Linked DNA regions of Homo sapiens. The protein of the gene in region 7 purifies or fractionates together with the protein of the main gene of each other region. This does not show direct contact. Each region holds a gene or a part of one and is shown on either strand. Other genes may lie near its edges.

Region 1 (4,001 bases), on a different chromosome or scaffold from region 7:
GCTCTGTCGCCTAGGCTGGAGTGGAATGGCACGATCTTGGCTCACTGCAACCTCCACCTCCCAGGTTCAAGCGATTCTCCTGCCTCACCTTCCTGAGTGGCTGGCATTACAGGTGCGCACATCATCATGCCCGGCTAATTTTTGTATTTTTGTAGAGATGGGGTTTCACCATGTTGGTTAAGCTGGTCTTGAACTCCTGACCTTAGATGATCCACCTGCCTCGGCCTCCCAGTGTTGGGATTACAGGTGTGAGCCACTGCGCCCGGCCTAAGTTTTTACTCTAGATTGGCTTTCCTTTCTCGCCAAGAACTTTGATTTTAACATTTGCATGAAAATACGAGACTATGTTTAGTGTGTATTAAAAACATTCCCAAACAAAAGCCATGAATCCTCTCCTGTGACACAAATGCTCAACAGCTGACTCTATAGCGATGGCCTTTGTTTCAGACATGGTTACTAATACTTTAAGTGGTAGTAAAAATAGATTTTTTTAATTTTTAATTTTTATTTTTTTTTTGAGACAGTCATGCTCTTGTCACCCCAGCTGAAGTGCAATGGCATGATATCGGCTCATTGCAACCTCCACCTCCCGGGTTCAAGTGATTTCTGCCTCAGCCTCCCGAGTAGCTGGTATTACAGGAGCCCGCCAGCATGCCCAGCTAATTTTTGTATTTTCAGTAAAGACGAGGTTTCACCATGTTGGCCAGGCTGGTCTTGAACTCCTGACCTTGTGATCCACCCTCCTCGGCCTCCCAAAGTGCTGGGATTATAGGCGTGAGCCACCGCGCCCGGCCAAAAATAGATGTTATTTAATTCTTTTTTTTTTTTTTTTTTTTTTTTTTTTTTTGAGATGGAGTCTTGCTCTGTCACCAGGCTGGAGTGCAGTGGCGTGATCTCAGCTCACTGCAACCTCTGCCTCCTGGGGTCAAGCGATTCTCCTGCCTCAGCCACCCGAGTAGCTGAGATTACAGGCACGCACCACCATGCCCAGCTAATTTTTGTATTTTTAGTAGAGACAGGGTTTCACCTTGTTGGCTAGGATGGTCTTGATCTCTTGACCTCATGATTCGCCTGCCTCGGCCTCCCAAAGTGCTGGGATTACAGGCGTGAGCCACCGCGCCCGGCCCAATGTTATTTAATTCTTACTTTTATTGGGCCAAGACACAAAAGGGACGCTGAGACTCTGAAGAGAAGGAATCCCTGTGTGTGCTGAAAAACTATTCCCTTTGCTAGGCTACACCAATTTTGACATTTTATTGGGCTAAACAAAAGACAAGAAAAATGCACACAAGAAAAATGCTAGTAAAAACTTCTTTTACTAGCTTGTATAGTTGCATCTGCTTTCTTTTCTTCTTTTTTTTTTTTGAGACAGAGTTTCACTTTTGTTGCCCAGGCTGGAGTATAATGGCACGATCTTGGCTCACCGCAACCTCCGCCTCCCGGGTTCAAGAGATTCTCCTGCCTCAGCCTCCCCAGAAGCTAGGATTACAGGCATGCGCCACCACGCCCGGCTAATTTTGTATTTTTAGTAGAGAACGGGGTTTCTCCATGTTGGTCAGGCTGGTCTCGGATTCCCAACCTCAGATGATCCTCCCGCCTCGGCCTCCCAAAGTGCTGGGATTATAGGCGTGAACCACTGTGCCCGGCCGCATCTGCTTTCTAATGTAAGAGACTGATCTAATAGTCTAGAACCTGACAACTCTTATGGTATCATGGATTTTGTTTATATGCTTTATGAAGGTCACTGCACTGTGGCAACAGTCCAACACTACTGTACCAGCTCCCTCTGACACGTTCCCCTCCAAACTCACGCAGTGGCCAGCTCACTCAGGGCCTCCTGATAGCGTAGGTACTCATTCTGGCCAAAGACCTTAGGAAAGAGAAAGGAAGAGTGAGGATCTCTCAGTCTGAGGGATCTCTTTAGTGCCCCGAAGAAAAAACTGGCTTACCCCTGTCCCATAGCGGGCTGTTTCATAGCCATCCAAAAGGGTATCAATGAGTGCTTTGCGTACACCCTTGAAAGGCGTACTAGTGTTTCGCAGATCCAGCAGGTAGGAGCGGAAATTCTTGCCCATTAAGGAACGGGGATGCCGGCCTTCAGAATGAAATGGGATCTCTGTGGAGAAAACAGCACAATGATATCTCTTCTCATTCTTTAGTCTTTTTTTTTGAGATGGAGTCTCGCTCTGTCACCCGGGCTGGAGTGCAGTGGCAGTGATCTTGGCTCACTGCAACCTCCACCTCCTAGGTTTGAGCAATTCTCTAGTCTCAGCCTCCTGATTAGCTGGGATTACAGATGTGCACCACCATGCCAGGCTTATTTTTGTATTTTTAGTAGAGACAAAAATACAAAAGGGTTTCACCTTGTTGGCTAGGTTGGTCTTGAACTCCTGGCCTCCTGTGATCTGTCTGCCTCGCCCTCCCAAAGCGTTGGGATTACAGGCATGAGCCACTGCGCCTGCCCCATTCTTTAGTCTTTCTAGTTAATTCCCCAAACTTAGAAGTAGGTCTAATGAAGCTGGGCGCAGTGGCTCACGCCTGTAATTACAGCAATTTGGGAGGCCGGGGCAGGCAGATCACCTGAGGTCAGGAGTTTGAGACCAGCCTGGCCAACATGGTGAAAACCTGTCCCTACTAAAAATACAAAAATTAACCAGGCATGGTGGTAGGTACCTGTAATCCCAGCTACTCGGGAGGCTGAGGCAGGAGAACCGCTTGAACCCAGGAGGTGGAGGTTGTGGTGAGCCAAGATCGTGCTACTGCACTCCAGCCTGGGCAACAGAGCAAGACTCCGTCTCAAAAATAAAAAGAAATAGGTCTAATGAAATGAGCAAGTTGAGTTAGAGGGAGATTCTGATTGAGACCAAAGGTATAAAGCTGTGCCTGAGTGGTCATTTGGTGGTAACACCACAGTTGTAAGCTACATCTATGACACATGATAGTGTCATCACACATTTTACCATCCTGCTTACTCATCCATCCTAGGTTTAAGATATAAACTGTTTTCATAGAGATAAAGCATATATGACAAGTGTTGACAGAATGGAAAAAATTCAAGAACAATCTATCTTGGGCTTAGTGAAAAAGCAGGTGCCACCTGTCCTTTGTGGAAAAACAAGCAAATTACTATCATCTACTTCATGAAACTAAAGGTCTCAAGAGAAGAACTTTAAAAAACAAAACACCCAGACTCTTTGGAGAATAACCTGCTTATATCATTTCCTTCAGCAAAATCTCTAATCTAGTACTTTCAAAACTCTAGAATTTCCTACTAGCCAGGGATGTGCAGAAAGGACAAATCCTAACATACAAAGTGGGTTCATTACTCTGTTCCCTAGGTGGGCTTTCAGGATCCTAGAATGGACCCTGTCAGGTAGCCCTTACCAGAGGTACGAATGGCATCCAGAGCTTTCATCCTATACAGATAGTTGTAGCAACCTGTTGAGGAAAAGACTGGTGTTAGGCATAACCCTAAAAATATTCCCCAGGCTGGGCGTGGTGGCTCATGCCTGTAATCCCAACACTTTGGGAGGCTGAGGTGGGTGGATCACCTGAGGTCAGGAGTTTGAGACCAGCCTGACCAACATGGAGAAACCCCGTCTCTAGTAAAAACACAAAATTAGCCAGGCGTGGTGGCGCATGCCTGTAATCCCAGCTACTCAGGAGGCTGAGGTAGAAGAATTGCTTGAACAAGGGGGTGGAGGTTGCAGTGAGCTGAGACTGCACCATTGCACTCCAGCCTGGGCAACAAGAGTGAAACTCCATCTCAAAAAAGAAAAAAAAAATTCCCCAAACTCCAGCAAGCTAATAAATGGGCTCTGCATCTAACATATATCCAATAACAGGAATAACTAAGGCTTTGCCAGCAGCTTTTGACAACTCTGAGAGAAAAGGAATTCTGGACTTGTGGGACTCCTCACTGAAGCATTCCAAGAGCTTGCCACATACTTTGATTTCCCTGGGTTTCCAGTTGTAGTAGTCTAGCATCATCATCTGCAAGG
Region 2 (4,001 bases), on a different chromosome or scaffold from region 7:
AAGGCAGTCCCTTAATGGCAAAGTACTTCCTGACTTCACGAAGAAAATATCAATGGAGCCAGTCCAGAAAAAGGGCTCTCAGTGCCCAGGCCTTCTTGCTGTACAACCAAAAGGCTGGCAGCTGGTGTTCATCTTTTCCATTCAAGGCTCAGGGGTTAGCAACTTTATATATAATGGCAGCCCCCATCATAAACTGAACTGCATTTGCACAAAATAGCAGAGTTAGCCTATCCCTTCCTGCCTTATATCCTGATGCTCACTTCTCATCCTTACTAGTACAATGTCCTTTGTGACATTTCTTTTCCAGAATAGGGCACTTTTGTCTGCACTAAAAAGTTGATGAGGTAGGGCTGGCCGCAGGGTTCACACCTGTAATCCCAGCACTTTGAGAGACTGAGGTGAGTGGAAGCCTTGAGCTCAGGCATGCGATAAGTAATAATCACATCATGGACTGTATGCCTTTCTTATAGCAGTCCTGCACCCATATAAAAGCTTCATTTTCAATATGAGATGAAAAGGTATTTTGCAAAAAGTGCAATGTTTTCTTACCTGCTGGCATTAAGTGCAGGTGGATCACAAGGCCAGGAGTTTAAGACCAGCCTGGCTAACATGGTGAAACCCCATCTCTACTAAAAATACAAAAATTAGCTGGGCATGATGGTGGGCGCCTGTAATCCCAGCTACTTGGGAGGCTGAGGCAGGACAATCGCTTGAACCTGGGAGGTGGAGGTTGCAGTGAGCCAAGATCGTGCCACTGCACTCCGGCTTGGGCGACAAGAGCAAAACTCCATCTCAAAAAAAAAAAAAAACAAAACTGGAGAACTGCAAGAGATCACTTTTTACTGCTATACATAATTTACTCAAGAGACAAACTGCTCACAAAGAGATGATTAGCATCATGTGGCATTTTAAGCAGATACTCCCAATACTTGAGGCTCAGCAAAATAACAGGAGCTAACTACAAAATTATTACAGTAGTACAGTACTACTGTTAATTTTATGCAGGTGTGATTAATACTGCACCTGTATGTTTACATTTTTCTCAAATGCAAATGGTACCATGTAGTCTCAAGTGTTTGTGAGCATATGTTTTGATAGATTTTCACTTTTTATAATAGATTTGTGTATATTTTATGATAGTAAATGATAAAATAGACTAGAATCTAGATATATTTTATGCATTCATATAATTTTCTTAATTTTTTGGTATGTCCATGCTCCATGGTTTGTGAGATGGTGATGATGATGATTATTATTTGAGACAGAGTTTCGCTCTTGTTGCCCAGGCTGGAGTGCAATGGCACAATCACAGCTCACTGCAACCTCTGCCTTCTGGGTTCAAACAATTCTCCCGCCTCAGCCTCCCAAGTAGCTGGGATTACAGGTGTGCGCCACCACGCCTGACTAGTTTTGTATTTTTAGTAGAGACGGAGTTTTGCCGTGTTGCCCAGGCTGGTCTCAAACTTCTGAGCCCAAGTATTCTTCCTGCCTTGGCCTCCTAAAGTGCTGAGATTACAGATGTGAGCCACTTTTTCAAATTGTTGCAAATCTAAAAAATTTTTCCAATGTATTTATCTTTTAAAATTGACATATAAAAATCCATGGTTCAAACTGATGCCACTCAAACCTGTGTTGTTCAAAGGCCAACTGTATCTCTTTTTTAAAACTATTTATTTATTTATTTGTATATAGAGACAGGGTCTTGCTTTGTCACCCAGGCTGGATTGCAGTAGGGTGATCATAGCTCACCTCAGCCTCGAACTCCTGGGCTCAAGGGATCCACCTACCTCAGCCTTCTGAGTAGCTGGGATTTTGGGTGCATGCCACCACACCTGGCTAAATTTTTATTTTTAGTAGAGACAGGGCCTCGCTATGTCGCTCAGGCTCGTCTTGAACTCCTAGCTTCAAGAGATCCTCCTATCTCAGCCTCCCAAAGTTTTGAATTACAGGCATGAGCCACCACACCCAGCCTCAACTATATTTTCTTAATTTCATTTTTTTATTGTTCATTGCTAGTATATAGAAAAATGATAATTTTTGTATATTGATCTTATATCCTGTAACTTTGTCCAACTTGTTTATTAGTTCTAACAGTATTTGTGTGTGTGTGTGTGTGTGTATTCATTAGGATTTTCCATTTACAAGATCATGTCATCTGTGGATGTAGTTTTACTCTTCTTTCCAATTTGGATGGCTTTTATTTCTTTTTCTTGCTTAAATGCCCTGGCTTGACCCTCTAGTACAATGTTGAACAGAGTGGCAAGAGTGAACAGACATACTTGTCTTGTTCCTGATCTTGGTGGGAAAACACCTAGTTGTTCACCTTTAAGTATGATGTTAACTGTGGATTTCTGTAGATGGACTTTATCAGGTCGAGGAAGTTCCCTTCTATTCCTAGTTAAGTGTTTTTATTATGAAAGAGTGTTGGGGCTGGGCGCAGTGGCTCACACCTGTAATCCCAGCACTTTGGGAGGCCGAGGCGGGCAGATCACAAGGTCACGAGACCATCCTGGCCAACATGGTGAAACCCCGTCTCTACTAAAAATACAAAAATTAGCTAGGCATGGTGGTGCGCGTCTGTAGTCACAGCTACTCAGGAAGCTGAGGCCAGAGAATCGCTTGAACCTGGGAGGCAGGGGTTGCAGTGAGCCGAGATCGTGGCATTGCACTCCAGCCTGGGTGACAGAGCAAGAATCCGTCTCAAAAAAAAAAGAGTGTTGGATTTTGTTAAATGCTTTTTCTGTACCTATTGAAATGATCGTGTGATTTTTGTCCTTTATTCTATTAACATGGTATGTTACATTGATTGACTTGTGTGTGTTAAACAATCCTGCAATACTGGGATAAATCCCACTTGGTGAAAATATATAATACTTTTTACATTGCTGTATTTGTTTTACTAGTATTTTATTGAATATTTTAAAATCTATATCCATAAGGGATATTGGTTGATAATTTAGACTTCTTATGATATTTTTGTCTGGTTTTGGTTACAGAGTTAATACTGGTCTCAAAGAATGAAGCCAGCTGGGCCTGGACTTTTCTTCATTGGAAGTTTTTTTTTTTTTTTTTTTTTTTTTTTCAGACAAGGTCTCCCTCTGTCACCCAGACTAGAGTGCAGTGGTGCTCACTGTAGCCTCGCCCTTCCTGGCTCCATCAATCCTCCTACCTCAGCCTCCTGAGCAGCTGGAACTGCAGGTGTGCACCACCATGCTCGGCTAATTTTTGTGGGGTCTTTTTGTTTGTTTTTTATTGTACTAATGAAGTTTCGCCATGTTGGCCAGGCTGGTCTTGAACTCCTGGGCTCAAGTGATCCTCCCACCTCAGCCTCCCAAAGTAATGGGATTACAGGCATGAGTCACCATGTCCAGCTAGAATTTTTTTGATTGTTAATTAAATCACCTTATTTGTTGTAGGTCTACTTGGGTTTTCCTTTTTTTTTTCTTTTTCTTTTTTGGAAATAAGGTCTCTGTCACCGAAGCTGCAATGCAGTGGCACTACCATAGCTTACTGTAACCTCAGATTCCTAGGCTCAAGTGATTCTCCTGCTTCAGTCTCCAAAGTAGCTGGGACCACAGGCATGTGCCACCATGCCCAAGTATTTTTTTTTTCTTTTTTTAGAGATAATGTATTGCTGTGTTGCCCAGGCTGGTCTCAAACTCCTGGTCTCAAGCAATCCTCCTGCCTCAGCACCCCCAAAGCTCTGGGATTACAGGTGTGACCCACCATGCCTGGCCTCCATTTTTCTTGGGTCAGTTTCAGTAATTTGTGTCTTTCTAGGCATTTGCTGATTTTATCTAGGTTATCTAATTTGTTGGCACACAATTGTTCATAGTATTTGGATTGGTAGGGATATCCCTCTTTCTTTTTTTTTTTTTTTTTTTTTTTTGAGAGACAGGGTCTTGCTCTGCTGTGCGATTATGACTCACTGTAGCTTCAACCTACTGGGTTCAAGCAATCCTCCTGCCTCAGCCTCTCAAGTAGCTGGGACTACAGGTTGG
Region 3 (4,001 bases), on a different chromosome or scaffold from region 7:
AAAAAGTTTCTGGGTAGTCTACGAGAAATGTCAATTATTATCTCTACTACAACTACTTACATATATCTAATGGGAAAAGAGTGGGGCTTAGGTGTCAGAGTGGATGGGAGACAAAGGAGAAGCTACACTAATAAATACAACAAGTGGAAGGTACCTGTCCCATTCCTAAAAGGATTTGTGGGCAATGCTGGCACTTGGTGGCCAGGAGAATCTTCTGACCCCACTCTCCCTCCTCTTCAGTCCTGAAGACCCCAAGAACCCAGTTAGGATCCCCTGGCCAGAGGTCTCTGTGACTGCCTCTGGACTCAGCACGTGCAGCAGCTTGGGAGGATTTGAGCCAGTCTCAAAAACTTTTAGCCCCAGAATGAGACCAGTGACCCCAAGCAGGAGGGCTGGGATCTGGAGGGAAGAGAGGGGGTCCAAGGGGACCCTGTGGCTGAGGCCATGGAGAACCAGTGCCAGGGCCCAAGAGACCCATTTTTCCAGTTATCAGAGGTGACTGACATCTTCTGCCACTGCCTTGAGTTCAGAAATTTAAAAAAGCTTGCAGCAAGAAAATGCCAGTGTGCAACTGGGTGACTAAAGACCAAAGAAAAACAGTTAAAAGGGACAGCTTACTTGCTCTCTGTCTCAGGTTTAACTTCTCACCTGAAATCTCTCATAGCCCTAATTAAACACAAACAAAAGTCTCTTCCATAGATAGGCTACTTCTCAGCTTCAGCTGCCTCCTGTGGTGGCTCTGGGGGCTCTGGAGGTGGCATCTCTTCGGGAGTGCTGCTGTCCTCCGGCATCTCATTTGAGTTCAGGTGTTCTGTGGGGGCCTGAGAAGGAAAAGATATGAGATTCAACACAAAGCTGTTCCTCAAAATCCAAATGCAGATAAACCTTAGACACTGAACTCTTCCTCTCAGCCCCCTGATCACACTGATGCTACAGATATGCAGCCACCAACACCAAACTCAGAACCAACACCAAGCTATCGTCTTCTCGGCAGAACACAACTGAAGTTTATTTGAGTTTGATCCTTAACTGTTGGTTGGGGACAGATTTTTCTATTATTATTAATAGTCATAATAATAGGAATCACAAATAATTACACAGGTCCTCCCCACTTCAGAACAAATGTCATAACATACTTATGTAACAAGGCCTGACCCAATGGTCCTCAATCGTGTTTCTGCCCGAACACACAGCTCATTAGAATAGTGATTCTGAACCAAAGAAGGCCAAGTGTCCAAATTTTCAGCTGGTCATATGTGGTTTGAAAATGTCCCCAAGTGATTCTAAAATACCACCCTTCTCCACTTTGAACCAAGAATAACTAACCTAGATTGTTACAATTTGAGTCCAGACTCATTTAAAAAATAATATTAAAAATGACAACAATAATATATAAACACGGGTTGCTGTACTTTAAAAGGAAATTCAAAATTTAGGAAAGGCAAAGTAGAGAACTATTATCTACCTTATAAAAAGAATTCACTTAAAAGTATGATTCTGGCCGGGCGCGGTGGCTCACGCCTGTAATCCCAGCACTTTGGGAGGCCGAGGCGGGTGGATCATGAGGTCAGGAGATCGAGACCATCCTGGCTAACAAGGTGAAACCCCGTCTCTACTAAAAATACAAAACATTAGCCGGGCGCGGTGGCGGGCGCCTGTAGTCCCAGCTACTCGGGAGGCTGAGGCAGGAGAATGGCGTGAACCCGGGAAGCGGAGCTTGCAGTGAGCCGAGATTGCGCCACTGCAGTCCGCAGTCCGGCCTGGGCGACAGAGCGAGACTCCGTCTCAGAAAAAAAAAAAAAAAAAAAAAGTATGATTCTATTTTAAAACAAAGTTCAAACTACTAAAAATCTATTAGAACTAATGAACAAGGGCCGAGTACGGTGGCTCGTGCCTATAATTCCAGCACTTTGGGAGGCCGAGGAGGGTAGATCACTTGAGGTCAGGAGTTTGAGACCAGCCTGGCCAACATGGCAAAACCCGGTCTCTACTAAAAACACAAAAATTAGCCGGTGTGGTGGTGGGCACCTGTAATCCCAGCTACTTGGGAGGCTGAGGCAGAAGAATCACTTGAACCCAGGAGGTGGAGGTTGCAGTGAGCCAAGATGGCGCTGCCGCACTCCAGCCTGGGCAACAGAGCGAAACTCCATCTCATAAAATAAAAACAAAAACAAACAAAAAAGAACTAATGAACAAGCTTGGCAAGGTTTTAGGGTATAAGATCCATATATAAAAATCAATTGTCTTTCAATACACTCCAAGTGAAAAATCCAAAAATGAAATTAGTAAAACAATTTCACTTACAATAACATGAAAAATAATCAAATATTTATGAATAAATGTAACAAAAGTGTAAAACTTATACTCTGAAAACTACAAAATGTTGTTGAAAGAAATCAAATCATACCTAAATATGTGAAAATACAGTCCATGTAAATGGCTCAGAATATTTAATCTTGTTAGGATGGCAATATTTCCCCAAATTGATCTATAGATTCAATGAAATCCCCATCAAAATTCCAGCTGGCTTCTTTTCATAAATGACAAGTTGATCCTAAGATTCATACGGAAATTTAAGGCACCCAGAAGAGCCAAAACAATCATGAAAAAGAAGTATAAAGTTGGAGGACTCACATTTCCTGATTTCAAAACTTACTACAATGCTAAAGTAATCAAGACAGCGTGGTACTAGCATAAGAACAGACATATTGAGCAATACAATAGAACTGAAAGTCCAGAAATGAACTCTCACATTTATAGATTTTCAACAAGGGTGCCAAGACAAGTCTATGGGAGAAGAATAGTCCTTTCAACAAATGGTGCAGAGACAACTGGATAGCTACAGGCAAAAGAAAGAATGTGGACCCTCTACCTCACACCATATATAAAAATTAACTCAAAATGGATCAAAAACCTAAATGTAAGAGCCAAAACTGTACAGCTCTTACAAGAAAACAAGGGCATAAATCTTCATGACTTTGGATTAGGCAACAGTTTCTCAGATATGACACCAAAAAGTACAAACAACAAAAGAAAAAAATAGACAAACTGGACTACATCAAAATTTAAAAATTTTGTGCTCCAAAGGACACTATCAAGAAAATTAAAAGATAACCCATGGAATAGGAGAAAATATTTGCAAATTGTATATCTGGTAAGAGACTTGCATACAGATTACATAAAGAACTCTTACAACTCAACAATAAAAAAGACAAACAATCCAATTAAAAAATAGACAAAAGCTCTGAACAGACACTTCTCCAATGAGCACATAAAAATGGCCAATAAGCACATGAAAAGATATTCGACATCATTAGTCATCAGGGAAATGCAAATCAAAACCACAATGAGATACCACTTCACATTCACTAAGATGGCTAGACTCAAAATGTCAGATAATAAGTGTTGCAGAGGATGTAGAGAAACTGGAACCCTCAGGCACTGCTAGTGGGGGTATAAAATGGTGCAGCCACTTTGGAAAACAGTTCAGCAGTACCTTAAAGGTTAAACATAGAGCTACCATGTGACCTAGCTATTTTACTCCCAGGTATATAGCCAAGAGAAATGAAAATATATGGCCATGCAAAAATTGGTACACAAATGTTCATAGCAGCATCACTCATAATAATCAAATGGTGGAAACAATCCAAATGTCCATCAACTGATGAATGGATAAATGAAATGTGGTATATCCATATAATGGAATATCATTTGGCCATATAAAGGAACGAAGTACTGCTACATAGTACAACATGGACAAACCTCGAAAACATGCTAAGTAAAAGAAGCCAGTCACAAAAGACCACATATTGTATGATTTCATTTACATGAAATACCCAGAAGAGAGAAATCTGTACTAAAAGGAAGTAGATTAGTGGTTGCCTAGGGGTGTGGCTGGGGAAGTTCAGGGGAAAGGGAGAGTGACTGCTAATGGCTACAGGGTTTCTTAGGGTGGAAGGGTAACGAAAATGCTCTAAAATTGATTGTTATAATGATTGTAC
Region 4 (4,001 bases), on a different chromosome or scaffold from region 7:
GCCTCAGGCTCCCGAGTAGCTGGGACTAGAGGCGCCCGCCATCGTGCCTGACTAATTTTTGAATTTTTAGTAGAAATGGGGTTTCACCATGTTGGCCAGGATGGTCTCGAACTCCTGACCTCAAGTGATCCTCTCACCTCGGCCTCCCAAGGTGCTGGGATTACAGGCGTGAGCCACCGTGCCCAGCCATTTTCCTGCCTCTTGTCCAGCCAGCAGCACACAGTTCGAGATGGGGCAAATGCTGGGTAAACACGTTTCTTTCTTCTTTGGGTAGCCTGACCAGCTAGAAACCTTCCTGTTCCATCCCTTTATAAATAAGGAACTGAAACCGCCCAGAAATGGAGAGATTCCTTCTTTATCCACCACACCAACCTGTCTGGTACCCAGTGAAGCTCCACCTGCCAAAACACTGCAGGGACCCCTGGGTGAGGCACAGTCCCAGGAGATATAAACACATGCTGGAACCTTCTAAGACAGAATTTCCAGACTGTGGCCAGGTGCCGAGGATCACGCCTGTAATCCCAGCACTTTGGGAGGCTGAGGCGAGTGGATCACTTGAGGCCAGGAGTTTGAGACCAGCCTGGCCGACATGGTGAAACCCCATCTCTAGTGCAACTACAAAAATTAGCCAGGCGTGGTGGCACGTGACTGTAGTCCCAGCTTCGAGGGAGGCTGAGGTGGGAGAATCACTTGAATCCGGGAGGCAGAGGTTGCAGTGAGCCAAGATCGCACCGCTGCGCTCCAGCCTGGGCGACAGAGCAAGACTCCGTCTCCGAAAAAAAAAAAAAGTTTCAAGGAGAAGCACAGGAGAGCACAGGGTCCCTAACAAAAGTCCTGCCAACGCAGAGAAGCTCTGAGGGGCTGCAGACCAGCGTGGTACACTGACAGGCCAGGGCTGGGTTGTGGCCAGCAGTCTCCCAGATAAGCAGGGCCCAGGGGCCCCCAAAGAAGCCACAGGGTAACCTTACTTCCTCAGCTATTCTAAGAACAGCTGGCAAAAGCCTTGACTTCCTCTCCAGAAAAGAGCCCATCCCTGCCATGGGTGGTTCAAGGGGACAGCAGAGTCACTGGGTCAAGTGACACAGCAACACTCCAGCCGGCTAACAGTGGGACCACAGCTCCCACCCCACCCCAACCCTGCCCCAGGCTTCTCTCCCCCAAGCCTGGGGCAGAGCTGGGGTCCCAGTGCCTATGACAGCTCACTGTCACCTCAAGCCCCCGCTCCCTATAAGCTGCTGCTAAACACCCTCCCTGACCACTTGTCACTCTTGCAAACCCCACACTGTGGATAATGGACTGTATGGTTCCGGCCTGCTGCTCTGTACATTTGAGCATCCCTGATCTCTACCCATCAGGTGTCAGGAACAGCACCCTGTGAAATCCTAACAATCAAAAATGTCTCAGTAGGCTGGGCACAGTGGTTCATGCCTGTAATCCCAGCTCTTTGGGAGGCCGAGGCAGGCGGATCACCTGAGGTCAGGAGTTTGAGACAAGGCTGGCCAACATGGCAAAACCCCATCTCTACTAAAAATATAAAAAGTAGCCAGGCGTGGTGGCACAACCCTGTAATCCCAGCTACTCGGGAGGCTGAGGCAGGAGAATTGCTTGAACCCAGGAGGCGGAGGTTGCAGTGAGCTGAGATTGTGCCACTGCACTCCAGCCTGGGTGACAACAGCAAGACTCTGTCTCAAAACAAAAAAAAAAAGGCCGGGCGCAGTGGCTCACGCCTGTAATCCCAGCACTTTGGAAGGCCTAGGCGGGCGGATCACGAGGTCAGGAGATCGAGACCACCCTGGCTAACACAGTGAAACCCCCTCTCTAGTAAAAATACAAAAAATTAGCCGGGCATGGTGGCAGGCGCCTGTAGTCCCAGCTACTCGGGAGGCTGAGGCAGGAGAATGGCGTGAACCCGGGAGGCGGAGCTTGCAGTGAGCCACCGTCACGCCACTGCAGCACTCCAGCCTGGGTGACAGAGCGAGACTCCGTCTCAAAAAAAAAAAAAAAGAAAAAAAAGAAGTCTTACTGGGGTTCTGCGAACTAGGCATCTCTTCTTTATTACCTCATTCCACTGATGAGGAAGCAGAGAACTTTCTAGATCATCTGCCACACTCTGGGGACAGAGTGTGGGTTTCAACTTTCCTCTTCTTCTTCCTCCTCCTCCTCCTACCCTGAGGCTTCCTGACTTTCAGCTGGTAGTCGGGTCACTAACCCTTGATGGGCCTCAGTTTCCCCATATGGACAGTGGACAGAATGGTAGGATACATTTTCCTACACATCCTGGGTGCCGCCACAAGGCCCTGAAACCCCGACCCAGGGCTGGTTCATGGCCTTCCGAGGCCAGATGGCGATTTGTAGCCATTTATTGAGCCCCTATCCTGGCAGCGGTCAGCATGAGAAGCAGACATGTTAGTGAATACTGCAGGATCAGAAGTTCAGAAAACAGAATTACAGGAAGAGCCAGGGCAGGCAGGAGAGATCTAGGAGTTGGAGTCCTAGGGCAAAAGGTTCAGGGGTCACAGGTGAAGGGTTGACAGGTCCAGAGGACATAGGGTGGGGTTAGGGGGTGGGGGTCACAGGACCCAAGGGTTAGAGGTTGGAAATGATAGGATGAGAGAGGTCTGCTTCTATGGGAGAAGGTGCTGGTCTTACAGTCAAAGGGCAGGGATCAGAGGTCACAGAAGTCATAGGGAATGATCTCAGGTGGCATGGTTACAGGTCAGGGGTCAGCCTCACCTGGTCTCCCTGGCGGGCAATGATGGTGCCAGCTTTGGCGTGGTGCAGCAAGACTCTGCTGTTCAGGAGGGAGGGGTCCTGGGGAGGTAGGGGGGTTGAGATGGGCGCAGCCAGGCCTCCCTTGCGCCCTGTGCCCAGCTCCCCTCGGCTGCCCACCTCAATCCGCATCAGCTTGGCCAGCTCCTGCTTTGCTGCCTCGAAGATGCTGCTGGTCTGGCGGCCCTGGTAGGGCCCGAAAGGGCAGCCACCAGTGGCCGACTCATCCTCACAGTAGCTGTATTCACAGGCGCCTGCCGGCTGCTCACGAGGCTCCTGAGTGGGGGTCTGAGTGGGGCAGGCTTGTGACCTCCTGATGCTCCCTCCCAGCCACCTTCCCCTGCGGGCTCCACCACCGGGCAGGGTCCCAAGCCTTACCCGAGCGGGGGCTGCCAGGGACCCCCCGGAGGCCTCTTCCTGCAGGGACACGGAGATCCGGCCACGCTCATAGGCCATGTCGAAGTCGGAGCGGGGGCCACCCTGCAAGCCTGCAGGCAGGCAGGGGGGCAACAAAAACCATAAAGATGAGAGTAAGATTTTTAAAAAATGAGCCAGGTGTAGTGGTGCAGGCCTGTAGTTCCAGCTATTTGGGAGGCTGGGGCTGGAGGATCACTTGAGCATAGGAGTTCGAGGCTGCAGTGAGCTATGACAGCACCACTGCACTCTAGCCTGGGAGACAGGTCTCAAAAGAAAAGAAAAAGATGAGAGTAACCACAGTTGCAGTCTGAGACCAATGGATACCAATGTGCCATGGGCCACTGCTGTAGCAGACATGACTAATCAACGCCTGCACTCTCCCTCTGAATCCCTCTTAACAGGTGGGAGAAGCACTATCTCAATGAATATCTACAAAACAGTGCCTGGGGAAGTACTGGCAGTGTTCCCATTTCGCAGATTAAAACAATCAAGACAGGCAGGCGGTGGACCTGGATTCAAACCTGGAAGCTCCATGGCCCTCCCCGCAGACCCAGTGCTCCAAACCTGAGATGTCCCCTGGCATGGAGACGCAGCGGCTCAGCAGAGGGGCCGAGGGGGTTTCCAGGGATGTGGGCTTCACAGGGTCCCCTGGGGGAGACACATGTTCAGGCTCCTGCCCCTCAGAGCCACTAGGAGGATTAGCAGGTTGGGAGATAAGGAGATGCTGGCGACTGATTAACTAGTTAAAGCAATTCCAATGGGCCCTTGGGGACGAGGCCACAGCTTCCTCGGTACCAGATAGGAGTCAGACCTGG
Region 5 (4,001 bases), on a different chromosome or scaffold from region 7:
CATGTAATGCAGAGAATATTGAAGGATAAGGCCAGAGAGTTAGGTCCAAGTGAGTTCCTAAGGCCTTGAAGCCATGCCAAGGTTCTCATCTCTGTCAGCCAGCACTATTGAAACAATTCTTTAATGAGGTAGGTAACCTTTATAAGGCTTCCAACACAATGCCAGGCACAAAACAGTTGCCTAAGAGTTGCTGTTAGTTTCTCTTATCAACAGCCTCCTGCAGTGATCTCTCCAGTCTCTTCTCCCTTCCAGTCTGTCTTAAGTACTGATGCCAGAGAGGTCTGCCTAAGCTCAGTGCTGTCATTTCACTCCCTGTTTGGAGCCATGAGTGGCCCCCTGTTGCCTTCAAGACTGAAGCCATCCCCATCCTTCCTCCCACCAACCTAGAGGCTTTGCTTCGTAAATGCTGGCCCTTTCCTTCATGGGCTCCACCCTCTGAGTGTGTCATGAACTCTTCCACTTCCTTGCCTTGGTTCGTATTGGGTCCTCTGCCCGAGGTCAGAGATTTGGACGAGCCCTTCTCCTCCATCTTCACAGTCTCCATTTACCATTAGATGCCAGGCCCAGACAGTTGATGAAAAATGTAAGAAACGGACCCAAGTATAAGAAAAAGCTAGATCTGTCCATTTTATTTCTAGTTTTTGGAAGAGATGTGGATACAGAGAAATATTACTCTACTATTGAAAAAAATATATATCAGTCTGATTATAAATGTCAACTCATACTAAGTCAATATCAGGGAAGCAGTGTGGAGAAGGATGTGGCAAACTGGAGATTGCTGTTTCCATAGAAAGAGGGCAGCTAATGCTTATCTCCAGACCATTGTTATGCAGTAATGTAGACTCCATTTCACCAGATTTAATTCTTAAGGAGAAACTGGAAACTTGTATTATTATTTGATTATTACTTTTGGCAGTTAATTTTAAAAATCACCGTTTAGGCCAAAACAACATGACATTTGTCTGGGCTACAAGGGACTCTTAGCGACTCTTAGCTTGCACTTACCTTTCTAATCTCAGGGCTTTTTACAAAGCCCTTCTCTGAATTCCCTGAAGATATGCTAGCTTGAAGGCTCACTGCATACTCTCAACTTCCCAGCCACTTCCCTGTTTCCCTCTTATACCAGTTAATACTTTGATGTTATTTTTTCAGTCCTATTTAATCTTTTAGACTGGAGGTTCCTTGAGGGTGGGGCCTAATTCTTGTTTTTATCTTCCCCATAGCAATTATCAAGTTATCTGCTCCCTTTGGCACCTAAGAAATATTAGTTGGGGTGATAACTGAATGGCTGTCCTTCTGCCTTCGTTACTGCTTTTGTGGATGTTATTTTCTTTGACCCCTATTCCACCCGTGTGCAGTGGAGAGGATGGGTGTTGTATTTTACAGAGGAAGGAATTAACTGAGACGCAACAGGATGATGGGAACTTCTCAAGGTCATGTGGCAAGGAAGTCAAGGAATTGGGGTTTGAACCCAAGTCGTCTCAGTTCCATTCCATTGTCCTCTACCCCCTGCCACCTCTCACCTTCTTCCCTTTCACCTTTTTCTGTAGCTGAACGGAAACCACCGCTCTTTAACATGAATGCGATGAGTGCCTTATACCACATTGCACAGAACGAATCCCCCGTGCTCCAGTCAGGACACTGGTGAGGACTGAGATTCCGAATCTGGGCCCAGGCGTTAGGCCATGGGGTATGGATGCCTGACTCATGCCTTCCCCACCCCTCTCCCACCCTCCTGTGACTTTCAGGTCTGAGTACTTCCGGAATTTTGTCGACTCCTGTCTTCAGAAAATCCCTCAAGACAGACCAACCTCAGAGGTTCTCCTGAAGGTGAGGGCCTGCTGGCCTAGCATTCTCCTGGAACTGTAGCTTGTTACAGCCACAAGAACCCCCAGGGAAATTAGTGGTTCCCAGTTCCTCCTCCACCAAGAGCTTCGTTGATGAATTCCCACCCCATCCCCAATGCCTAGTGGACTCTGTGTTTTACAAGATTTTGTCTACCAGACTGCCTTAATTTATTAAGTAATAAACTGTTTTCCCTTCTTTTATTAATCAAAGATTTATATAATTGCCAGCCAGAGCTTCTGGTCAGCATGTGATAACCAGGGTTGCCCCACTGATCTGATGTAATGCAAGCCAAAAGCCTGTGTAGCCTTATCATGGGTAAATGTATGATTTCCCTTAGGTGTTTTTTGAATTATCAAAAATGGAGGGGCCCCATTCCCTTCACAGACCCATGGGGGCCTGAGGAGCCGTAGTTGGAAACTTCAGATTATGTAGTTGGACCCACTTGTTTTATAATTGTAGGATACTGTATGAAGCCCAGAGGGGCCTCATGACATGTCCAAGGTCACATAGCCCTTTAGTAGAGGAGCTGGACGAGAATCCAGTTCTCCTGACTGTCCCTGCCTGTCAGCCATGCTTAGAGGAAGAAGAGTCTGTCTGGGGAGTAGGTACTGGGTGGTACAGAAAATTGTGAGAGAAGGGCTTGGGATAAGGCCAGCATCAACCCGTGGTGGGCGTGGGCCCCAGAAGAGTGCCTCAGGCCTGAGGGAATGCCAAGGGCTGTGGGTTGTGGGGGGAAGGGGAGTTGGCAGCAGACCTCAGTGCCCTCTTCCCCCAGCACCGCTTTGTGCTCCGGGAGCGGCCACCCACAGTCATCATGGACCTGATCCAGAGGACCAAGGATGCCGTGCGGGAGCTGGACAACCTGCAGTACCGCAAGATGAAGAAGATCCTGTTCCAAGAGGCACCCAACGGCCCTGGTGCCGAGGCCCCAGAGGAGGAAGAGGTGACCCAGCTTGCCCTAACACCCCTCTTTATACCCCATGTGTGCCTGCCCCCTGCAGTTGCTTGGCCCCTTCCCCAGCCCTACTCACACCACCATCTTCCCATGCTACCTCCATGCATATGCCCCAGGGCTTCCCCTTCCCTGTCCAGCAGCCTACGCCCTGTTCGCAGGAGGCCGAGCCCTACATGCACCGGGCCGGGACTCTGACCAGCCTCGAGAGTAGCCACTCAGTGCCCAGCATGTCCATCAGCGCCTCCAGCCAGAGCAGCTCCGTCAACAGCCTAGCAGATGCCTCAGACAACGAGGAAGAGGAGGAGGAGGAGGAGGAAGAGGAGGAGGAGGAAGAAGGCCCTGAAGCCCGGGAGATGGCCATGATGCAGGAGGGGGAGCACACAGTCACCTCTCACAGCTCCATTATCCACCGGCTGCCGGTACACAGCTCACCCTTGGGGGACCCGAGCCACCTGCTCTAGAACTGCCTGGGTCTTCGCCCTCCTTCCCTAAGTGCAGCACTCCTCTGAGTCTGATTGGCTGTCCTCAGGTAGCTCTCTTTGGACCCAGTGGCCTCTGAGCCTTGGGTGTTCCTTCTATCTCCCTCTAGGGCTCTGACAACCTATATGATGACCCCTACCAGCCAGAGATAACCCCCAGCCCTCTCCAGCCGCCTGCAGCCCCAGCTCCCACTTCCACCACCTCTTCCGCCCGCCGCCGGGCCTACTGCCGTAACCGAGACCACTTTGCCACCATCCGAACCGCCTCCCTGGTGAGTGTAGCCATCCTCACTCAGCCTGCTCGCTGTCTGTTTTTTAAGTCTTTTTAAGTCTAGAAATGATTTCCTCCCTGTGGCATGGGATTGAGTCTGGATTCTACCCTCATTTTCTGTTGCTGGCTCCTGCCTGCTCCCCTTAACCCTCCTGCTTCCCTCCTCTTCCCAGTGGACTGTTTTGGTCATATGGCCCAATCTGGGTGTTTCTAGCTTGGCAAACTCTTACTCCGTTTTTGTGGCCTGACTTAACTGACATCTCCTGGGTTGCCTTCCCAGGCTCCTCTGGTGAGTCAGATGCTTCACAGTTGTGTGCTGGGGAAGCCCAGTGCTGGGGGAGCCCTGTGCCTGTGGAGCCCTGTGCTGGGGGTGTCCAGTGCTGGGGAGCCCTGTGCCGGGGGTGCCCTGTGCTTGGGTGGTCCTGAACAGCATCATGATAGGTTTGCC
Region 6 (4,001 bases), on a different chromosome or scaffold from region 7:
TGCCTGAGTGCCAGTTAATCCATATCCTAACTTGTGGCACTGTCAGGCTACAAGAGCAGTCACTCTGGAGGGTGTGCAGTGCTATCTCATTATGGCTTTGTCTTTCTCCAGTGACATTTTCCCTAATAATGCCGAGCAGCTTTTCATGACCTTATTGGACATTTATAGATTTTCTTTTGTGAAATGTCTGTTCAAGCCTTTTCCCCATTTTAAAACTAGATTGTCCTTTCATTATTGATTGGTATAGTTTGTTATATATTCAGAAAACAAACAAACAAAATCTATCGTCAGATATATGCATCTCAAATCTTTTCTCTTAGTACTGTGGCTGGCCTTTTCACTTTTTAAGTTTTATGATCACATATTTTAATTTTGAAGAAGTCCAGTTTCTCTCTTTTGTTTTACATTTAGTACTTTTTGTGTGGTCTCCAAAAATGTTTGCCTAGACCAAGGTTGTGAATGTTTTCTCCTATATTTTGTTCTAGAAGTTTTATAACTTTAGCATTTATGTTTAGGGTTATGAACCACTATGAATTAATTTTCTTGGGCAGGGAAGGGGCCAAAGTTCTTTTTTTTTTAACCTTTATCCAACTGTTCCAGCATTACTTGTTGAGAAACTCTTCTCACTAAATTTTGTTTTATAAAATATCTTTTTTATTGAAATGTTATTTTTGTAAGCATGTAATATTTTTATTAAAATTTCTCAGTTTTCATTTCGAATATGGTGAATAGGGAGAGACATAATCCATATAAATAAAAGTCCTTTGGAATCATCGTAATTTTTTTTTTTTTTTGAGACAGCGTTTCACTCTAGTCACCCAGGCTGGAGTGCTCTAGTACAATCTTGGCTCACTGCAACCTCCGCCTCCCAGGTTCAAGCAATTCTCCTGCCTCAGTCTCCCCAGTAGCTAGGATTACAGGTACCCGCCACCACACCCAGCTAATTTTGGTATTTTTAGTAGAGACGGGGTTTTACCATGTTGGCCGGGCTGGTCTTGAACTCCTGACCTCAGGTGATCCACCAGCCTCGGCCTCCCAACGTGCTGGGATTACAGGCGTTAGCCACTGCGCCTGGCTGATCATCATACTTTTTAAAGTGTGTAAAAGGGTTCTCAGGACCAAAAAGTCTGACAAGCGCTGCTTTGGATGAGCCATGTGTGCTCTTATCTACGACAGGACTGCAGGCCTCCCCATAACACACCCCTCCTTCCTCAAGGACATCATCAAGCCAGGTTCCTTTAGGGGTCCTCTCTATTGTACATCTGTCTGGATTCATGCTAAAACACCACCATTTCTTCATGACTTGTGCAAATGTCACCATGGCAGAAGAGATGAATAATGTCTTCATATTCTTGTGAAAACACTTTTGACTCTGAGCATACTCCCTGGCAGAGCCCCTGGGACTGTTCTTGGGGGCTCCATGATCCACCACGCAATGTGGCTCTGGCTTTCAAAAACTATGTAAGACAATGACTCCAGGCACAAAAATTTTGTGCCTTCACACTTTTTAGGATTAGAACGAAGGCAGTAAATAATAACTAAATAATAACTAAAAAAGCTAAGGACTTAGAGACAATCTGAGATTTATAGACATAGTTCTCCTAGAAGCTATGTGACTGTGGAGAAGTCAAATTATTTTCTGTGTTTCAGTTTTCACATCTATAAAATGGAAAAATACCACCCACTTCAGAGAAATTTCTAGACTATTAAGAAGCTTCTCAAAGTAGCGTATGGTGCTACACAAATGTTTCTAATTTTTTTATCTCAAACATCTTGTGATTACAGGAACCAAAAATAAGAAAACCTAGTAAAGATGTTGATAGCATAAGAGAAGGTACAGTTTAAGCTGAAGAGTGGCCCAGAGAAAATGTGCCATTAGGATTTCAGAATGAACTGCAAAATAATACTGCACAGAACTTCAAGTAGAATCTAATTGTACATACCGCTATTTGACATTTGAAAGAGATTGTTCTTTTCAAACTTCTTGAAAACACTTCCTTTAATTTCAACAAACTGAAATAGTAAACAGAAATACCATCTTTATGATTATAACAGTTTAAAAACTGGACTTGCTACTTATAAAACTTCCGGGAGAACAACATATAGAACAAAGAATTTTATCCCACCCAGAGTATTGCAGCTGAAATGCCTGTATAACTTCAAAAATGTAAGATAAATCTCATACTTACATTATTAGACATCATGATAGTAAGCAAAGACTTGTTGTGTGAGTTAAAAGCTACATTGAGAGTTGTTGCTTGAACCATTATAAGAATTGCATGCAAAACTAATAGAAGGTCAAGGAAAAAACTTAAATTTGCTTTCATATTATTACTGATAATACTATAAAATTTTGAAAGTGAATAATAAAGATGACTTTCTTTTCTAAATTGTCTTAATAAGTATTGTATTATCTTCATAATTTCCCTATTAGCTATAGTTGATATAAGTTTGACAGGATATGTGCAATCCACATGAAACGAACAAAAGTGGAAATGTACCTCTATGCATTCATTTATTTAGACCATGAATCCTTTGCAACAGGGTTGTTTTGTTCTTTCTGTATCTCTGGCACTTGGCACAGTGCTCAGGAAATAGGCCCTCAAAAAAGTTTGTTAAGTAAATGGAATAAATTATGGTAAATACTGAAAGAAGAGACTAAGAAATACACATTCTGAATTAAAATAATTTGCATTCTAAAAAAGAAAGCACAAAATATAATTCTGGAAGTGATTTTCTTCCCTGAGTCTTCAGGAAATGTGGAATGTAAGGCAGTAGGAAATATCTGATAATTAAGATTCTTCTTCATATGTCATTTTGAAGATATCCATAAACTGCAGAATTATATTTGTATTACATACAGAATAGTTAATTTATATCTAAGAGTGGTAACTGCTTTACTCCATTAAAACTGGAACAAGATTTTACCCTCACAGGTATCTTCCAACTTGGTTCTTTAACTTTCCAAGCATTAACCCAATTTCTTTCAAGTGTCACTGTTACAGAGATAGAAAAAAAAAAAAGTGACTCATTCTTGTGAATGAGTCCTGACTTCACATGGAACTTAAGAGCAGGAATGTGTGTATAAATATGTAGGGGTACACACAAACATGTACACTGCTTATACAGTAAAGCACTTACTCTCCAATAGAAAAGCTTAAAGCCAGGGAAGAATACACAAACACATAAAACCACCAAAACTCCTCCCAACCAATTTCACATTACACTTTTAGATAAATTCCATGCATTTTAAGCCCATAAAAAAGAATTCCTGGATTTAAAGATAACTTCAAGAAAAATTCTAACATAAGTACGAAAAATTATATAGATCTATATCAGGTATGTATAAAGATACACTGCCTTTTTATTATAAAAGTCTTCCTTATAATCAGTTACACTGCAAACAGAACTGTTTTCCAGCAGCTCAAAGAGTAATGCCTACATGAGGCTCTTAAATTAGTTAGTTATTATGACAATCAATTTCTCAACAGAACACAAATATTTCACATTAATCTTCAGGATACATACATTATCTATATATCTTTAAATCTATAAAATGGCTAACCAAATAAAATAAGGTAGACTATGCATTAACTGTCGGAAATTTCCAGTAGGTCTATAAGGATACAGACATAGAGAACAGCCATGAAAAAGTGAGGAATCACCCCAATGTGGGCTCTTTTTCTTTCTTTAGGCTCTGTTGCTGTCCAATAGAGAGCATCTAATATGTCTTGTCCAAAAGATGAAAACAGACGATCAGCTACCTAAAAAAAAAAATTATTTGTAAGATGTTTCTTAATATTCCATTTAAATATATAACTAAAATTGAGATATAGCTCAAATCCTGGAGATCTGTGTTTTAAATCCTAGTAGAAGGCAAGCTAAAGAGGAGTGAGGATCTTTGTTTACTTATTCACTCACATTTCTTTATTCTTTAACAAATAGTAACGGCTAAAATATGTATAGAATTTCAGTTAGACTAATTAGCTATGTTTGTAACA
Region 7 (4,489 bases):
TCTTTGAGATTCCTTTTAAGGCTGAGACATGGGACCCAAAAGTCACTTGGTAACTGTAAGCCCCCTCTGTCACTGTTCAACAAATGTAGTCCGAGATCCCACTAAGCACAGGGAACAGTGTTGGAACTGTAGGAATAAATGAGGAAAACTGAATCTCACAGTGGCTCTGCAGTCAGACTGCAAGGGATAGAATCCTAGCTTCACCTTTTCCGGGCTGGGTGACCTTGTACAAGTTACTCAGTTTGTCTCTCTTTCCTCCTGTAAAATACGGTGATAATAGAACCTACCATCCTAAGATTGTCATCAGGATGAAGTGAGTTCATACATGTAAAAGCTTTTAGCTTTTAGTGCCTAGTACAGCGTAACAACAAATATTAGAGATCTAGGTCAGTGCAGCTAAACAGACCAAGACCCAGATTAGCAAAATGACATGTCAAGTCAAGGAGCCATAAAGAAATAGATATCACAGCTGGAAACTGGGTCCCCACATCCTATTCTCTTCTCTATGATGTTTCTTTGTGGGTATTTCACACAGGTGGCACTCTGGAAGATGCACTTTCCTGACACCTGATAAGCAGAGTCAATAAACACACCCACCTTCTCTGCTTCAACATACCCTGCAGAGTCGTCCTTCCTCCTAGTGAGACCTCAGGCCCACCATTTCCCACTGGCCTCCCATCTGACTCAACATGCACCTGGGGGGTTCCATCTACTGCTGGCTCCCACAGCAATACTGCAGTGAAGAAAGCAAGCATCACATCCTCATGCAGTTGTTATGGGAATTAAATGAGATAATGCCTGGAAAAGTGCCTAGCAGAGTATCTGATATATAGTATGCAGCTAATAAATGTTATCTATTAAAAAATAGAAGGAAAAGGAGGAGGAAAACCCTGTGGTGCCTACTCTCTCAAAGCTGACACACATTCCAATGGCAAATGCCAGACACAGGGCAGATTGAGATGGGTGGTAGAACAGAGGGATGCACGTCTGTGAAGAATTACAGTGAAGGGCAAAACCCACTGAAGACAGGAGGGAGCTGCAGTTCCCACTCTCCCCCTTCCTTCTTAAAAGAAGATGATGATACTCAGTTGGTGCTTTGCTGGCAAACTCAAGCTCCAGAGCTTTGGATTTTTAATATTATAATATTTCAGAACAGAACAAAGACTGCTTCTGACCTCCCAATTTGCCCTCATACACTTGACCAGCAAAACCTTAGCGTAGCTGCATTCATCAATGGCTCTATTCAGGCAATTATGGGTCAGACAAAAGATTCAATTAATACTGATCCCGCAAGTCTCCTTAGTATATTCACAACATGCTTTGGATTCAGAGTTCTATGGCACCTTCATATGACCTTCTCCGGATCCCAATATTGACAATTCCTAGTTCAGAAACGACAAACATAATATTAGAACAAGAGAAGAAGGGAAGCTGGTGAGAAAGAAAGAACAGACTAGACTGGGTGCAGAAATTATATCATCCATTTGCTGTCTGTCCCCGAGTGCATCCTGGGGCCTGGCCCATGGCGGGCTGGTTGGAAATGCATACTGAACGAGTCAATCTCCTCAAGAAGGTCACCACCCAGGTAAGAAGTGGAGCCTGCACATTACACCAAGTTCAGCTAGAGAATCAAAGCCACCTCTTCGGCTCCAGATATGCAGGGAAGACAAAGCACGAGGGCATATGCCTTCAGCTAAGAGATAGGTGCGTGCTTCCTGTTTACCTGGGCAGGTATTTGCAAATAGTCTAAGAAGGGGGGCAACTAGGAGTGACTTACACAGTTCCAAGTGAATGGTTACGCAAATCGCTTGAGTAAATACAGGGAAAGAAACAGGAAAGGCTTCTGAACTGTTTGTACTCATCTGCTCCAGTATTTTCAGAGGGTAGGGTGAAAGACAAAAAACCCGAACGAAGGCTCCGGGCCAACCACAAAGCTACTCTCCGGCAGGAACGTAAGGAACACCTACCGCCCCTCCCCCCACTTCACGCCTTGGCACCAAACCAGGGCCCCTGGGTCATTTTGGCAGGTGGAGGTAGCTCTTTGCTGTCCTCTGCCCCTGCTGCGGGCCACCCGAGTGAAGCTTTCGGCTCGGTCTCCCCAGACAAAACCGGGGGGAGACATCAAGAATGCAAAAGGTGCTCCTTTCTCCAAATGAACGAGAAGGGACAGAGCGGGGTTGGGGGTGCAGGACAAGCCCTGCAATGCGAAAGGCGCCCAGCCAGGCTCGCCGCGGCCCCTGCCGGCAAGACTGGCTCGCTTGCTAGCCAAGGTGCCTCAGGAGGTCGGGCAGCCACCCAGAAAGGCGCGAAAAAAAAAAGAGGAGTTCCTGACCCCGGGGTGACCCTTCCCCACCACTGCCACTGATCCAAACGCAGAGTCCGCAAGTGACTCCACACCTGCGCTGCAAGCCTCACGCCGTCCCCACCCAGGGCGCAGCGCTGCACGAGAGCAAGGGCCCTGGGTTCGCTCTTCCCTGCAACTGTCGCGGGGCGCCTAGCACAGCTGCAGGGCAAAGGGGAGGGGAGGAATGACAAAGAAGGCGGAGCAGACGGCCCGGGAAGCATTTACAAGCGCCAGGAAAGCGCCTCCTCTCGAGGAAGGGAAGGAACGGCTTCCCGGCCAAGGAAACGCCCCGGGGATGCCCCTACGCGAGGTGCCGCCTTTCTTCGGCTCATCGATTCTCCCGCCTCCAGGTGGTCCTCCCCCTGACCATAGCCCACCCCACTCCCCGAAAGCTGATCCTAAATACCTTCCCCGAGGCTTTCAAATCAACCCAGCCACCGCTTCAACAGCCCGCAGTTCACGCAACAGGCGGAGCCTTAGGGCTCCAGCGACGGCGGGCTCTGGGGACCAGAGGATGCGGGCGCCGCGGGCCAGACGCCCAGAAGGACGGAAAGTGCTCTGCGGCCGTAGACCCTCGGGGTCGTGCACCCGCGACCTGGACCACAGGAGACTGGGGCAGCAAAAGGTGGGGGAAGGCGCGGTAAAGTTGCAGGGTCGCCCGGAGAAGTCTCCGGAGCGCGCAGGGAGGTGGGGACGCCAGCCAGGTACCTGCAGGAGTCCGGACGCATCCAGCTAGCTCCGCTCTGCGACGCCGCCTGCCCGCGCTGCAGGGATCAGGCCTCGCGGCGCGGCCCCGCGCCTGCCGCCGCGGCGGCGAGGAGAGCGGGGTGGCCCGCGTCGGCCGGTCTGTCCGTCGGTCCCGCCCCGCTAGAGCGAGGCTCCCGGGAGCTGCGGGCGGGGCGGGGCCGGACGGGACGGGGCGGGGCCCGCCGCTCGGCCGCCGCCCCATTGGTCGCAGCTCCGCCAGCCCCTCGCTTCGGGCCCGCAGCCGGGCGCCCCGGGCCGAGGGCGCGGGCGGCTGAGGACTGCGGGGCTCCGACCGCCAGACAGGCGGACAGACCCATAGACCTAGATGCTGCCCTGCCGGCCGCGCGCCCCCGCCCAGGCCCAAGTGCAGAGTCACCCCGGAGCGGCAGGCGCTGTCCGGGTGGGACCAGGAGCGCGCCCCGCGCCTCCCACCTGCGCGCCCTCCTGGGCCGGAAGCGCCGTGGCCCTGCGGGAAAAAGATGACCTCCCCCGCGGCCCCGGCGGCTGGGGCAACCGCCTTTCTAAAGTCGCGGCCCAAGCGACACTTTGCTAATTTGCCTGGATTTCCTCAGGAAATCGCGAGGCCCAAACTTGTTTTAAAACAAAGTGCGAAGGAGAGTACATATAGCTCCAGTTCCTGCCAATGTTTGCCATCGGTCCCGCTGCCTGAAGACTCAGGCACAGTGCAGAACAAGATGCTTTGTCTTATTCCTCCACTCACCGAGTCAGAAGAGGTGCTTGGACATTTGCACCAAGCAGATGCGCCTCATATGTAGAAGAGGAACCAGTCGGGTCCCCTTTCGGAAGGACGAATGGAAGAGGAAGTCAGGGGACGATGCCTTCAGCCGACGTTGAGGAACAAACCAGGACCTCGGCGAGGACAGCGTGTGGTCCAGAAGGCATCGCTGGCCTCGCTGCACTGAGCGAGAGCGCTCAGTTAACAGCCAGGAGGAGAAATGGGACGCTTCGGGACCCACCCCCGCGCTCCCCCTCCCGCCCCCAAACTGCAGATTTTTAAGTTGTGCAGACGTGGAACAATTCCTCGGAGCCAGCTGCTCCAAGCTAAGGCGCCCAGTGTTCCCTGGGTTCCTACCCGCAGCATACGCCCTGCCAGCTGCCCCCAAGCCAGCACCCGCTGACCACTCACCTCAGGCAAGCACCTAGGAAGACGATGCAGATTCAAGCTCCAGACCTTGAGCCAAGCGCTGGGGAGGGAATGGGGGCAAAGAGATGGTGGAAAACACTTTCCTGAACTTACTGAATACCCTATGTTATGTGTGGGTTTTCTAATTGTTCTTTGCTTAATGAAAAACCCACGTTGGAAATCAGAAAAAGGCAGTAATCCTCACCGTATCTTGTGGGCTTCAAAGAGGAGGTTTTCCCCTTAAAGGGAGTTTT

What was found.
Region 1: the proteins of KCNS3 (region 7) and LTAP1 purify together in Homo sapiens (affinity purification with mass spectrometry; 2 studies listed by BioGRID and IntAct, with this or other methods). This does not show direct contact.
Region 2: the proteins of KCNS3 (region 7) and DNAJC18 purify together in Homo sapiens (affinity purification with mass spectrometry; 2 studies listed by BioGRID and IntAct, with this or other methods). This does not show direct contact.
Region 3: the proteins of KCNS3 (region 7) and ZDHHC9 purify together in Homo sapiens (affinity purification with mass spectrometry; 2 studies listed by BioGRID and IntAct, with this or other methods). This does not show direct contact.
Region 4: the proteins of KCNS3 (region 7) and PNPLA6 purify together in Homo sapiens (affinity purification with mass spectrometry; 2 studies listed by BioGRID and IntAct, with this or other methods). This does not show direct contact.
Region 5: the proteins of KCNS3 (region 7) and TAOK2 purify together in Homo sapiens (affinity purification with mass spectrometry; 2 studies listed by BioGRID and IntAct, with this or other methods). This does not show direct contact.
Region 6: the proteins of KCNS3 (region 7) and TAPT1 purify together in Homo sapiens (affinity purification with mass spectrometry; 2 studies listed by BioGRID and IntAct, with this or other methods). This does not show direct contact.

Annotation. Positions count from the first base shown.
Region 1 is NC_000001.11:154,210,509-154,214,509, forward strand, and holds part of LTAP1 (protein C1orf43), read right to left. Parts: coding exon 3,949-4,001; intron 3,439-3,948; coding exon 3,385-3,438; intron 2,117-3,384; coding exon 1,950-2,116; intron 1,871-1,949; coding exon 1,812-1,870; coding exon of another isoform or gene 1,808-1,811; exon of another isoform or gene 953-1,807; intron 1-952. UniProt on the Homo sapiens protein: General regulator of phagocytosis. Required to uptake Gram negative bacterium by macrophages.
Region 2 is NC_000005.10:139,432,651-139,436,651, forward strand, and holds part of DNAJC18 (dnaJ homolog subfamily C member 18), read right to left. Parts: intron 1-4,001.
Region 3 is NC_000023.11:129,805,666-129,809,666, forward strand, and holds part of ZDHHC9 (palmitoyltransferase ZDHHC9), read right to left. Parts: intron 822-4,001; coding exon 705-821; 3' UTR 1-704. UniProt on the Homo sapiens protein: Palmitoyltransferase that catalyzes the addition of palmitate onto various protein substrates, such as ADRB2, GSDMD, HRAS, NRAS and CGAS. The ZDHHC9-GOLGA7 complex is a palmitoyltransferase specific for HRAS and NRAS.
Region 4 is NC_000019.10:7,541,817-7,545,817, reverse strand, and holds part of PNPLA6 (patatin-like phospholipase domain-containing protein 6), read right to left. Parts: intron 3,835-4,001; coding exon 3,751-3,834; intron 3,258-3,750; coding exon 3,148-3,257; intron 3,058-3,147; coding exon 2,890-3,057; intron 2,812-2,889; coding exon 2,734-2,811; intron 1-2,733. UniProt on the Homo sapiens protein: Phospholipase B that deacylates intracellular phosphatidylcholine (PtdCho), generating glycerophosphocholine (GroPtdCho). This deacylation occurs at both sn-2 and sn-1 positions of PtdCho.
Region 5 is NC_000016.10:29,980,111-29,984,111, forward strand, and holds part of TAOK2 (serine/threonine-protein kinase TAO2), read left to right. Parts: intron 1-1,550; coding exon 1,551-1,644; intron 1,645-1,748; coding exon 1,749-1,830; intron 1,831-2,623; coding exon 2,624-2,791; intron 2,792-2,940; coding exon of another isoform or gene 2,941-2,961; coding exon 2,962-3,222; intron 3,223-3,392; coding exon 3,393-3,554; intron 3,555-4,001. UniProt on the Homo sapiens protein: Serine/threonine-protein kinase involved in different processes such as membrane blebbing and apoptotic bodies formation DNA damage response and MAPK14/p38 MAPK stress-activated MAPK cascade.
Region 6 is NC_000004.12:16,184,592-16,188,592, forward strand, and holds part of TAPT1 (transmembrane anterior posterior transformation protein 1 homolog), read right to left. Parts: intron 3,765-4,001; coding exon 3,629-3,764; intron 2,288-3,628; coding exon 2,190-2,287; intron 2,014-2,189; coding exon 1,944-2,013; intron 1-1,943. UniProt on the Homo sapiens protein: Plays a role in primary cilia formation. May act as a downstream effector of HOXC8 possibly by transducing or transmitting extracellular information required for axial skeletal patterning during development. May be involved in cartilage and bone development.
Region 7 is NC_000002.12:17,877,370-17,881,858, reverse strand, and holds the start of KCNS3 (delayed-rectifier potassium channel regulatory subunit KCNS3), read right to left. Parts: upstream 3,193-4,489; 5' UTR 3,053-3,192; intron 1-3,052. UniProt on the Homo sapiens protein: Potassium channel regulatory subunit that modulates the delayed rectifier potassium channel activity of KCNB1 by namely slowing down the deactivation and inactivation time constants.